Homo sapiens: one gene and its partners. The protein of the gene in region 2 purifies or fractionates together with the protein of the main gene of each other region. This does not show direct contact. Each region holds a gene or a part of one and is shown on either strand. Other genes may lie near its edges.

Region 1 (3,659 bases), on a different chromosome or scaffold from region 2:
CATTCAGGGTGTAGGAAGAAATTACACAGTGGTGACATGTATGAATATTTTATGGAATAGTTCCAGTTGTGTTTGCACCTACGTCTATAAGTGAGTAGGATGCCTAAATAGGCTAAAATGAATGAAATTCTTATAAAAAATAAATTCTTACATTTAGTTAGCTTACCTGGATAATCATTCAAATGGAAACCAGGTTGCTACTGCACTGGGAAAAGAGACTTTATGAAGAACGATTATATAAGCCACTTGCCTTTAAAATAAGTTGTTCTTAAAATCAAGAGATTGGTGGAAGAATAGAAAAACAAGTAAATTGTTAACAGATTTCTTTAATCATCTGCTAAGTCTGGCTCATTGGCATAATTTATCTACTTCTTGATGTTAGTCACATAGTCATAAACTATTACCTTATTGGAGAGAGTGGAAGAGCTTTGTGTGATGGATAAAATACTTGCGGGGTGCTTTATTTGATTTCTTGCATTACTTGGGGATCTAAATCTAGCAATTCACAAAATTACTATCTAAAATGACAAAGATCTAGTGAAACTTCAAGCCACAGTTTCTTTTTGTTGCCCTATTTAGTGATGTTGCCAGTACTTGGAGCCTTGGAAACAGTTTATTATTGTTACATAGTCCGCAGAAATACTTGGTAATTCTGGGAGTCTGAAGTCAGGTGCCAGAAACTGTTCATTTTCTAGTAGGGGTAAGTAAGGTAAGCCATGATTTTCTAAGTCGGAAGTAAAGAAAACAGCATAAAACTGAAGAAAAAAAATAGTAGAAGGAAGGAAGTAGGAAGAAAAAAGAAATCTTATCTGTGCATGATACATAGCAGGAGTTTTGTATTTAACTCAGTGCCACAGTAATAATAGCAGTAACTACAGATAGTTTAACTTGAATTTAATTATTCCGTGCTAGAAGATGCTTGCTATAGAAACAATTTGTCTTTCTCTCATGATGCTATAAAATAATATATTAATTAGCTGTTTTAAAAACTAGATACCATTGAAGTAAATTTTGTTGTTGTTGTTTTGAGACAAGAGTCTCACTCTGTTGCCCAGGCTGGAGTGCAGTGGCACGATCACAGCCTTGACCTCCCTGGGCTCAGGTAATCCTCCTGCCTCAGCCTCCCAAGTAGCTGGGACCACAGGCACACACCACCACACCCAGCTAATTTTCTGTTTTTTGTAGATACAGGGTTTTGCCATGCTGCCCAGGTCGGTCTCTAACTCCTGGGCTCAAGTGATCTGCCTGCCTTGGCCTCCCAAAGTGCTGGGATTACAGGTGTGAGCCACAGTGTCTGGCTTGAAGTAAGTTTTTTAGTGGACAAAGTGTGAGTTGGTCTGTAAAATAATTTATTCCCAAGGGCCTTATTCTAGTTTTGTAGGGTTTTTTGTTTGTTTGTTTTTTTCTGGAAGAAAATGCGACCCAAAATGCCAGTTGGAATACTTAGCAGCTTTTTGGTCTTGGACAAGTTATTTAACCTTAGCTTTAACTTCTTCATCTTTTCAATAGGGATGGATAATAATGCCCATCTTTCAGAGTCATTCTGATAATTAAATGAGGTGATATAAAAGAAGTAACTAGTTTAATGTTGGTGCTTAATAGAGAATAGCTGTCCCATGTTATTTCCCACCACGATCTCCCTCTCTGTCTAGGTGCTCAGTCTCTCTAGTAGCCCAACTCAGTCAGTCATTCACACCTACTGTAGTCTACTGTCATCTTACTGCCTTTCACTGTCCTCTCATTCCCCTCATAACTTTACTTCCTTCTTTATCCTGCTTCAACTCCATGAGCAACCACGACAGTCAGTACACATTCCCTCAGCCCCCACCCCATTCCCCTCTTGCTGTCTTATACAAGAAATCACAACCCTGATTATATCAACACAGATGTGCTGACCAGCCTCACTCTAAATTTATGTTCGCTAGCCTCCGCAGTCATGGTCACTTCCTAGCAGTCACACTATACTTCCATAATCCATTTCACTTTTCTACATGGCTATTCCATTCATTTTCCTCAAGCCTCCAACACCTCCCCCATATTCACTTTCAGCCCCTTAACCGTGCTTTCTATAGCAGTTAACTGAGAAAAGAACAGCAAACGAAAGATAATTTTGATAAACTTACCCCTCACATACCCAGTTACCTGCATCTGTTCCCCAGACTTCTATGTTTTTTTCTGATCAATATGGATAAACTGTTCTTATTTCTGTCTAAGACCACCCTTCCACTTGTGCAGCATTTGTCCCCTCTTGGTGATTCAAGAACATTGCTCCAGCAGTTCTCTACTCTCCTCAGTTTTTCCTTCCCTAACGTATCTTTCTGTCTGCTTACAGATAGGCAGTTATTTCTTCTACCTTAAGAACAACCAAAAAACCCCACTGTACTTGAACTGAATTTCCTCTTTTCTAATGATTACCCCATTTCTATCCTTCCCTTTATAGCGAAACCCCTTGAAGAAGTTGTCTACACCACTGGTGTTCATTCATTTTTGAGCCCTGTTTACTAAGGTTTTTATTCCTACATATGAAGTTTTCTTATCAAAATTACCAAAGATTTCCATGTTACCAAATCCAGTAGTTAGTTCTTAGTCTCATTCTACTTCACCAGTCAGCATTACGTGGTACAGTTAGTCTGTTCTCTGTGAAGCATTTTCTTAACTTGATCGTATGCCATTTTTTTCCTCATATCTCACTGGTTACCTCTCAATCTCCTTGGCTGATTGAACCTGTAAGCCGCCAAATGTTGGGAGAGCTCCAGGGCTCAGTTATCTCCCCTTTTCTCTCTGTCTGTTAACATTTATTTAATCATCTGCATTCTTTTGATGATCTCATCCATCTAGTTCCTGGTTTCAAATACTACCTGTATATCACTGACTCCTATCTCTAGCCTGAATTTCTCCTCTGAACTCCTGACTTGTATATCCATTGCCTCTTTAACATCTCTACTTGTAGGGAAGTCTGCTAGAATCTCAATTCAGCATGCTCCAAACCTGTTCCTCCATCAGCCTTCCCCATCTAATCAAATGACAGCTCTATTCTAGTTGGTAAGACCAAAACACCTTGGAGCCATCCTTAATTCCTCTCTCTCTGTCTCACCTCATGTGATCCGAACCTATCAGCTCTGCTTTCAAACTAGATGCAGAATTTGACCTCTGACCACCCCTACTACCCTGGTCCATTATCTCTCACTAGTCTATTCAGAGATACTCAGATTCCTGTTTCTTGTTTCCAATATTGACCTCTCAGTTGATTCTTTCTCCTCCTCCCAATTTTACTTGAGTGAATCTTTGTAATTAAAAAATAAAATATATGGGAAATGTAGGTGACAAATTTTCTTAGTGAACCTATGTTTTCTTGTGCTTGACTGGTTGGTTGGCTATGTATTTCCAAATTAAGAGTCTTTTTTCTGTGGAACTTTGAAGTTACTGCTTTTTGTTCTTCTAATATTCTGGGGTTGCTGATGCCAGTCTGACTCTCAGTCACTTTTCTCTCTGGAAGCTTTTATTTAGAATTCTCTATTCCTGGAATTCACAAATGTGATCACACTGGTTTGTTGTTGTTTGTTTGTTTTTTGGTTTGGTTTGATTTTTCCTCTGAGTGTTTCTCTGTGGACCTTGTGAATCTGAAGAGTCAACTCTCGGCCGGGCGCGGTGGCTCATGC
Region 2 (3,659 bases):
AACTAGTATCATCCAATGATTTGGAATGCTACATTTATCATAGACAAAATGCTTATACATGTGTGGGTTTGTTTCTGTTCCATTGATTTTTCTCTTTATTCTAGAAGTAGTACAACTTTGATTTATTATTGTAACTTTAAAATACACTTTGATATCTGATGTAGGGCACATATTTTTCCTAGATATAAATTTTCTAAACAATGTTATTGAGGTATAATTTGTGGGCAGTAAACTATACATACTTAAAATGTACAATTTGAAGAGTTTTGATGCATGTATACACACATGAAACCACCACCACAATCAGGATACCTAACACACACACACACAAACACACACACGATACCTAACATTTCCATCACTCTCCAAAATTTCATTGTGTCCTTTTACAATTCATCTTTTCTTCCATTTCTGTCCCCAGATAACCACTGATTTGCTTTCTATTCCCATAGATTAGTTTGAATTTTCTAGAATCTTATATAAATAGAAGCATACAGTAGGCACTCTTTCATGTCTGGCTTCTTCCACTCAGCATAATGGTTTAGAGATTCATTCATGTTTTTGTATGTATCAGCAATTTGTTCCTTTTTTGCAGAGTAGTAGTTCATTATATGACTATACCACATTTTAAAAAATCCTTTCCCTGTTGATGGACATGTGGGTTATTTCCCACTTTTCGCTATTACAAATAAAGTTGCCATGAGAACATTCATGTTTGTCTTTGTATGGAACACACATTGTATTTTCATTCCTCCTGCAGAAATATCTAAGAACAGAATGGCTGGGTCATGGGTAGGCATATGTTTAATTTTTAAAGAAACTGCCAATCTGTTTCCCAAAGTGTCATGTTTTACATTTTCCAAAGTAGGGCATATATTTAAATTTACTGAATTATATTCACAGAAGGACTGCCTCTAATTGTCTGCCCCTATGATTTGGTCAGACCTTTTAGCATTTTTCTTATAAGTTTTAGTGATAGATTACCATTATATTCTAAAATGAGCACATATTTTTAACTAGTTGCAGGGTTTTTTTAATTTGTTTGTTTCGTTTTGTTTTGTTTTTGAGACGGAGCTTTGCTCTTCTTGCCCAGGCTGGAGTGCAATGGCGTGATCTTGGCTCACCGCAACCTCCTGTCTCCCGGGTTCAAGCAATTCTTCCGCCTTAGCCTCCGAGTGGCTGGGATTACAGGCATGTGCCACCACACCCGGCTAATTTTGTATTATTTTTTTTTTAGTGGGGACGGAGTTTCTCCATGTTGGTCAGGCTGGTCTCTAACTCCCAACCTCAGGTGATCCACCCTCTGTTGCCCCCCAAAGTGCTGGGATTACACGCATGAGCCACCACACCTGGCCAACTAGTTGCAGTCTTAAAGACCTAGGTATTGCCACATCATTAAGTAGGTAACAGACTTAAATAATTTCTCCTTGTGAATCAATGTTTTTTATTTTGGTAAAAAAAAAACCCCACATAACATGGAATCTACCTTCTTACAAAATTATTAAGTGTACAGTATGGCATTTTTAACTATATGCACATTATAGTACAGCAGATCTCTAGATTTTTTTCTGTGAATCAGTTTAAATATGCATTTTGAAATAAACAGAAACATAATATTATATACAATTATCTTGGATTTGCTGGATTTTAATTGTGGCTCCTCTACTTATGAGATCTTAAACAAATTACTTGATCTCTCTGGGCCTCAGTCTCCTCATCTGTATAATGAGGATAATAATAATACTTACTTTGTAGGATTGTTGTTGCGATGGAAGGAAGAAAAAGCTGGAGCGTTGTCTGGTATGTAGTAAGCATCAATAAAAGTTACTAGTCAGGCTTGGTGGCATGTGTCTGTAGTCTGAGCTACTCAAGAGGCTAAGGAAGGAGGATATCTTGAGCCAAGGAGTTCAAGGCTCCAGTGAGCTATAATTGCACCACTGCACTCCAGCCTGGGCGACAGAGTAAGAACCTGTCTCTAAAAAATTTTAAAAGGCCAAGCACAGTGGCTGTCTTCTGTAATTCCAGCACTTTGGGAGACTGAGGCGGGAGAATCGCTTGAACTCAAGAGTTCATCAGCCTTACAACATAACAAGACTCCCATCTCTACAAAAAAGTTAACTATTAATGTTTTACCTCCTTTCACAGGAGGAATGAAAATTATAAAGCAGATGCTTTTTATTGAAAACCTGTTTTCAGTATTTTGATTAAAGAAATGTGTTCCATTTATAATTATTGTTATTTAACTACATATAGATTTATTATGTACAACTTAACATTCAAAACTACCTTCCATATTTTGTTTGTTTGTTTCTATACCAAGAAAGGGAAACAGAAAAGAGCTGATTTAATAATGGGTTATTGAAAGATTTAGGGACTTGAATATTTGCAAAATGGTATTATGATATAGAAAGAGTGCTGGATTAGGCGTCAGACAACATGGGTTAAAACTCGTGTTTGGCAAACTACTAATCATGCTTCTAGATCTGTAAAATGCAAATGATTATCCATGAACTTTCCACCTGTCAGGGCAGAAAAGAGGATCAAAATGAGCTAATTAATTTTTGCTAATTTCAGCAGAAACAGACTGACCTCTGTTTTGGCTAGAATCATGGGACATTTAACCTATAATAATGTTTTGCAAGTGCAAATTCCTTAGGGAAATAAACAGCCAGAACTTACTACCAGAAGTTCCTGAGGTCTAATTCCATCTTTTCAAGAAGGCTTTTTGATCTGGATAATTACTTACTTCTTAATTTGTCAAATAAATTTAATTTTTACCATATGGAGCCCTGTTGAGAGCTCACTTATTAAAATCTTTTTCCTTTCCTAGGCTTGTTTACAAATTGATCCTGCTGACAGGATATCATCTAGTGATCTTTTGCATCATGAGTATTTTACTAGAGATGGATTTATTGAAAAGTAAGCATTTTGAGTGAATGTGGGTTTTTTAAAAGCATTTTGTATTGGGAAATTTTACTAGCAGGAAAATTGCTGTATAGGTTACTTTTATATAACAAATATTCAGTTTAACAAAAATTTATTGAGTTATTGTATCAGGTATTGACTAGGAAGACAGCAGACTTAACAAGTGTCACGAATGAAAAGCCTAATAATAGGATGGGCATAGTGGCTCACACCTGTAATCCCAGCACTTTGCGAAGCTGAGGCAGGCAGATTGCTTGAGCCCTGGAGTTCACGACCGGCCTGGGCAACATAGAGAGACCCCTGTCTCTACAAAAAATACAAAAATTAGCAAGGTGTGGTGGCACACGCTTGTAGTCCCAGCTACTCGGGAGGCTCAGGTGGGAGGATTGCTTAAACCCCAGAGGTGGAGGTTGCAGTGAGCTGAGATTGCACCACTGCACTCCAGCCTGGGTGACAGGTTGAGACCCTATCTCAAAAAAAGAAAAAGAAAGTCTAATAATAAAAAGTAATTGCAACTAACATTCGTTACACAGTTACCATGTCCTAGGCAGTGTGCTCTGCTCTTTACATACTACAGTTTCAGTGTCATCATAGACCAGAGATAACATTAAATAAGCAATCAATACTTCTTAGCTTTATTCCTGTTTGGACCTCTGACTCAGAGAATAGTCTGGTTTTTCCTCTTCTGATGACATTCATTTATCATAATTAGCATGCACTTCCCAAATGATTTT
Region 3 (3,307 bases), on a different chromosome or scaffold from region 2:
TGGAAAAAGTCAGACTTTATCTGCATCTAGTACATAATTAAAACAACTTACCAGGTTTACATTAAAGTTAAAAATTGCTAAGATTGACCATAAAAATATGTAAATAAGACAACTAAAAATAAATTTACATGCAAGGTGTGTAGGAACACTTAAATGTGTTTGTGGTAAAAGATTATAAAAAGGCATAAAAATGTAAATGTTGCCTATGGAAAAAGGATTCTTTTGAAACCTATGTAAGGGTAAAATTTGGCTTTCCTTCCCTTGTACAGATTTTTCATGTAATAGAGAAGAATAATGAAATATTTGGTTTGCCTTGTTGGTAGAATGCCAAGGAGAGAAAAGAGTAGACAGGAGACAAACTGTTTGGAAAGCTAAGTCTTACCTCTTAATGAGTAAAGATTGTTGCCTAGTTTTAAAATTTTTGAGTCATCCTTTTGCCAAAATAAATAACTTATGTGTAACCTGGAATTGTATTTCATACTATCAAGTGTCTTAAACCTCTTTTTACTAATTAGAGCTTTTATTTAAAATTAATGATATGTAACTATTACTGTATATGTAAGAAAAGAAACACACTTAGCTATTGCTTTGCGGATTTGCATTTAATTTTAAATTTTACAATTTAGATTCAGCATGAATTGCAATAAATGGATCTTCAGCAGAGTTACTAATAGAAAAATGAGCTTTGCCATCATCAGAAACGTAGATTTTAATGCCTGTGCAGTTGCCATTAATTTTATCTCCAGAAATGACATCACAGTATGTGCCAGCAGGAAGACCAGTTTGCAAAGTTAAAGAAAATGTCCTGTAAAATAAAATTTCAGATTTAACTTCAAAACAATGAAATCAAGAATACAGACTAACACAAATAAACAGCATAACTTTATGTTTTAGAACCCTAAGCAGTGAAGTCTCATTAAGAAGAAAACCCATATGCCTCCCTAGTAGGTGTAAACAGCTTTCTAGGACCAAAAGTAACCTTACAGAAAACCTACCAATTTCCTTTTCAGTAGTGAAAATATAACCGAAAAATCAAAGTTGAAGAATATCACCGAAGATTGGCGGGAGCGGTCACATTTTGATAAAGTGCTACCTTGGTAAAATCAAATTTTTTCTCAACTGAACTTAATGCCAATTACTTTAAAAATTTAAAGGGTATTATTTTTTTAACCTTCTTTTATTCTACATGAGGTCAAAAAGAATTTAGGGTGTACATAAAAACAGTCTAGCATTTGTATGAGGAAGTGATAGTTTGAAATATAAAGCTTTTTCACAAAAGATTTTTTTGGTATTTTCATCCACAAAAGAAGGAAACTAAGGAAATAGACACGCATTTTTTTGGCAGGAAAGAGATCAACTTGACTTATATATTTTTGTATTTATTTATTTTTCATAAGTGAAGTATAATTTATACTAGAGTGAGCTAAGTATGAGTGTCAGTTGGCCTTGGACAGAGACAATTCAACTGTTTGCAAGGAGGTCTTCTCAGCTACAGTTTCGGGAATCATTTATACTACAGCCAAAGGATACAAAAATCACAGATGAAAGGCCAATAATGAGAAGTTTCAGAACTAAAACTCAAGTCTCCTGAAGCAAATCATTAACCACAAGATACATATTATTTATCCATATGCTTTAAAAATGTTATTTGTCACAAGGAGACAGAGAAGTGAAGAAAGTATACCAAAAAACTAGGTAGAGCTGTCATTGAGAAAAAGAGAAATAAAGATATTTTAGTACTGAGGCAGCATTTTTCCATGATTAAAAGAGCAGGACTATAAGAAACGTTCTTTTAATGATTTCACAATCCTTCTATTAATTACTTTGTGTATTTTGTGGCATGTGTAGGTAAGCATATGAATGTGCATTCTATATATGCATAAGATATTGCAAGGGTGCACAGAAAGGATTCTGCTTACAACAGAAAGCACTTATGAAAACAGGAGAACGAAGGAGTAACAGCCATCATCCTTTTGCTTCTACCCAATTTTGATCTCTATTGTCTTCTCGCTCCACTGACTACATGATTTTTCAGATATGATAAATGTCAATGAACAGAAAAAAAAAAGAATAAACCAAGAACATACTGGTACAAAATATTATTTTTAATTGATATTTACTTACCAGTCATCATTGTTGAAAACAATGAATCCTCTGTTTCCTCTCCCAAAAGCCACTTGGTTGCTCCCATTATCATACCAGTTTGTAAAAGGCTGGCCATCCACTACATTGCGGAAATTAACCATGTTCCTAAAAACACAATACCATATAAAACGTTGATATTCTTAAACTTCAACTGTTTTAAATAAAGTGCTACGGAAATTTACTATTAGAGGACATGTCTAAATACATATTCTCACCTTATTTGGCGCCATCGATGTTCACAGACCCAGTCATTGCCACAAGTAGTGTCTGGATTAATAGTAACTTCTTTAGTTACTCCATTATCATTTGGTGGCCCAACCCAATCATTAACATCCTTAATTACAGGAGGAAAAGCCAAATTTTAGCATATATATATTTATCTCTTCCTTCTCCTTTAAACCAAACCCAACCTATCCTGTTACTTGTGTCTCTGCATTCAGTGACTTTATCTAGAATCCAATGCCTTCATTGATTTTTATAGCCCTTTACTGGGTCTTCATCATCTCTCTATCCTCTGGTTCTCTTTTGCCATATTTCAAACAAAGGTAGCAAATTGTTATCCTCTCCTTTTCATTCCAAGGCACTGCAAAGACTTCTTTGCTCTGTCACCCAGGCTGGAGTACAGTGGCATGATCGTAGCTCACTGCAGCCTTGATCTCCGAGGCTCAAGCGAACCTCCCATCTCAGCCTCCCAAGTAGCTAAGACTGTTGGTGTGCACCACCGCACCCAGCTAATTTTTTTTTTTTTTTAATTTTCAGTAGAGGCAAGGTCTTGCTAGCTTGCCCAGATAGGTCTTGAACTCCTCAGGTCAGCTGACCTTCTCAGCTGGCCGCACACAGTGCTGGGATTATAGGTGTGAGCCACTGCACCTGGCCTGCAAGGGCTTCTTAACATCACTGTAAGCCATGCAATGGCATTGAAATGGGAAGGGCATTAGTACTAGAAACACCAGGATTAAAACATAGGCTCTATTACTAGTAGCTGAGAAAATTTAATCAATATAAATAATTTCTCTGTGTCTCAGTTTCCTCATTTGTAAAATGAGAATAATGAGTTCTTTTGCTATAAAAATTAAGTAATATATGTGAAAATGCCTTGAACATGACATATGCTAAATAAATATTGGAGGCCGTCATGCTTCTTTTTAGATAAATGTACAAA

What was found.
Region 1: the proteins of CDKL3 (region 2) and LSM14A purify together in Homo sapiens (affinity purification with mass spectrometry; one large-scale study listed by BioGRID and IntAct). This does not show direct contact.
Region 3: the proteins of CDKL3 (region 2) and AMY1A purify together in Homo sapiens (affinity purification with mass spectrometry, with the first as the bait; one large-scale study listed by BioGRID). This does not show direct contact.

The regions. Positions count from the first base shown.
Region 1 is NC_000019.10:34,178,919-34,182,577, forward strand, and holds part of LSM14A (protein LSM14 homolog A), read left to right. Parts: intron 1-3,659. UniProt on the Homo sapiens protein: Essential for formation of P-bodies, cytoplasmic structures that provide storage sites for translationally inactive mRNAs and protect them from degradation. Acts as a repressor of mRNA translation. May play a role in mitotic spindle assembly.
Region 2 is NC_000005.10:134,311,552-134,315,210, reverse strand, and holds part of CDKL3 (cyclin-dependent kinase-like 3), read left to right. Parts: intron 1-1,293; exon of another isoform or gene 1,294-1,800; intron 1,801-2,830; coding exon 2,831-2,919; intron 2,920-3,659.
Region 3 is NC_000001.11:103,661,829-103,665,135, reverse strand, and holds the end of AMY1A (alpha-amylase 1A precursor), read right to left. Parts: intron 2,480-3,307; coding exon 2,361-2,479; intron 2,251-2,360; coding exon 2,125-2,250; intron 806-2,124; coding exon 616-805; 3' UTR 582-615; downstream 1-581. UniProt on the Homo sapiens protein: Calcium-binding enzyme that initiates starch digestion in the oral cavity.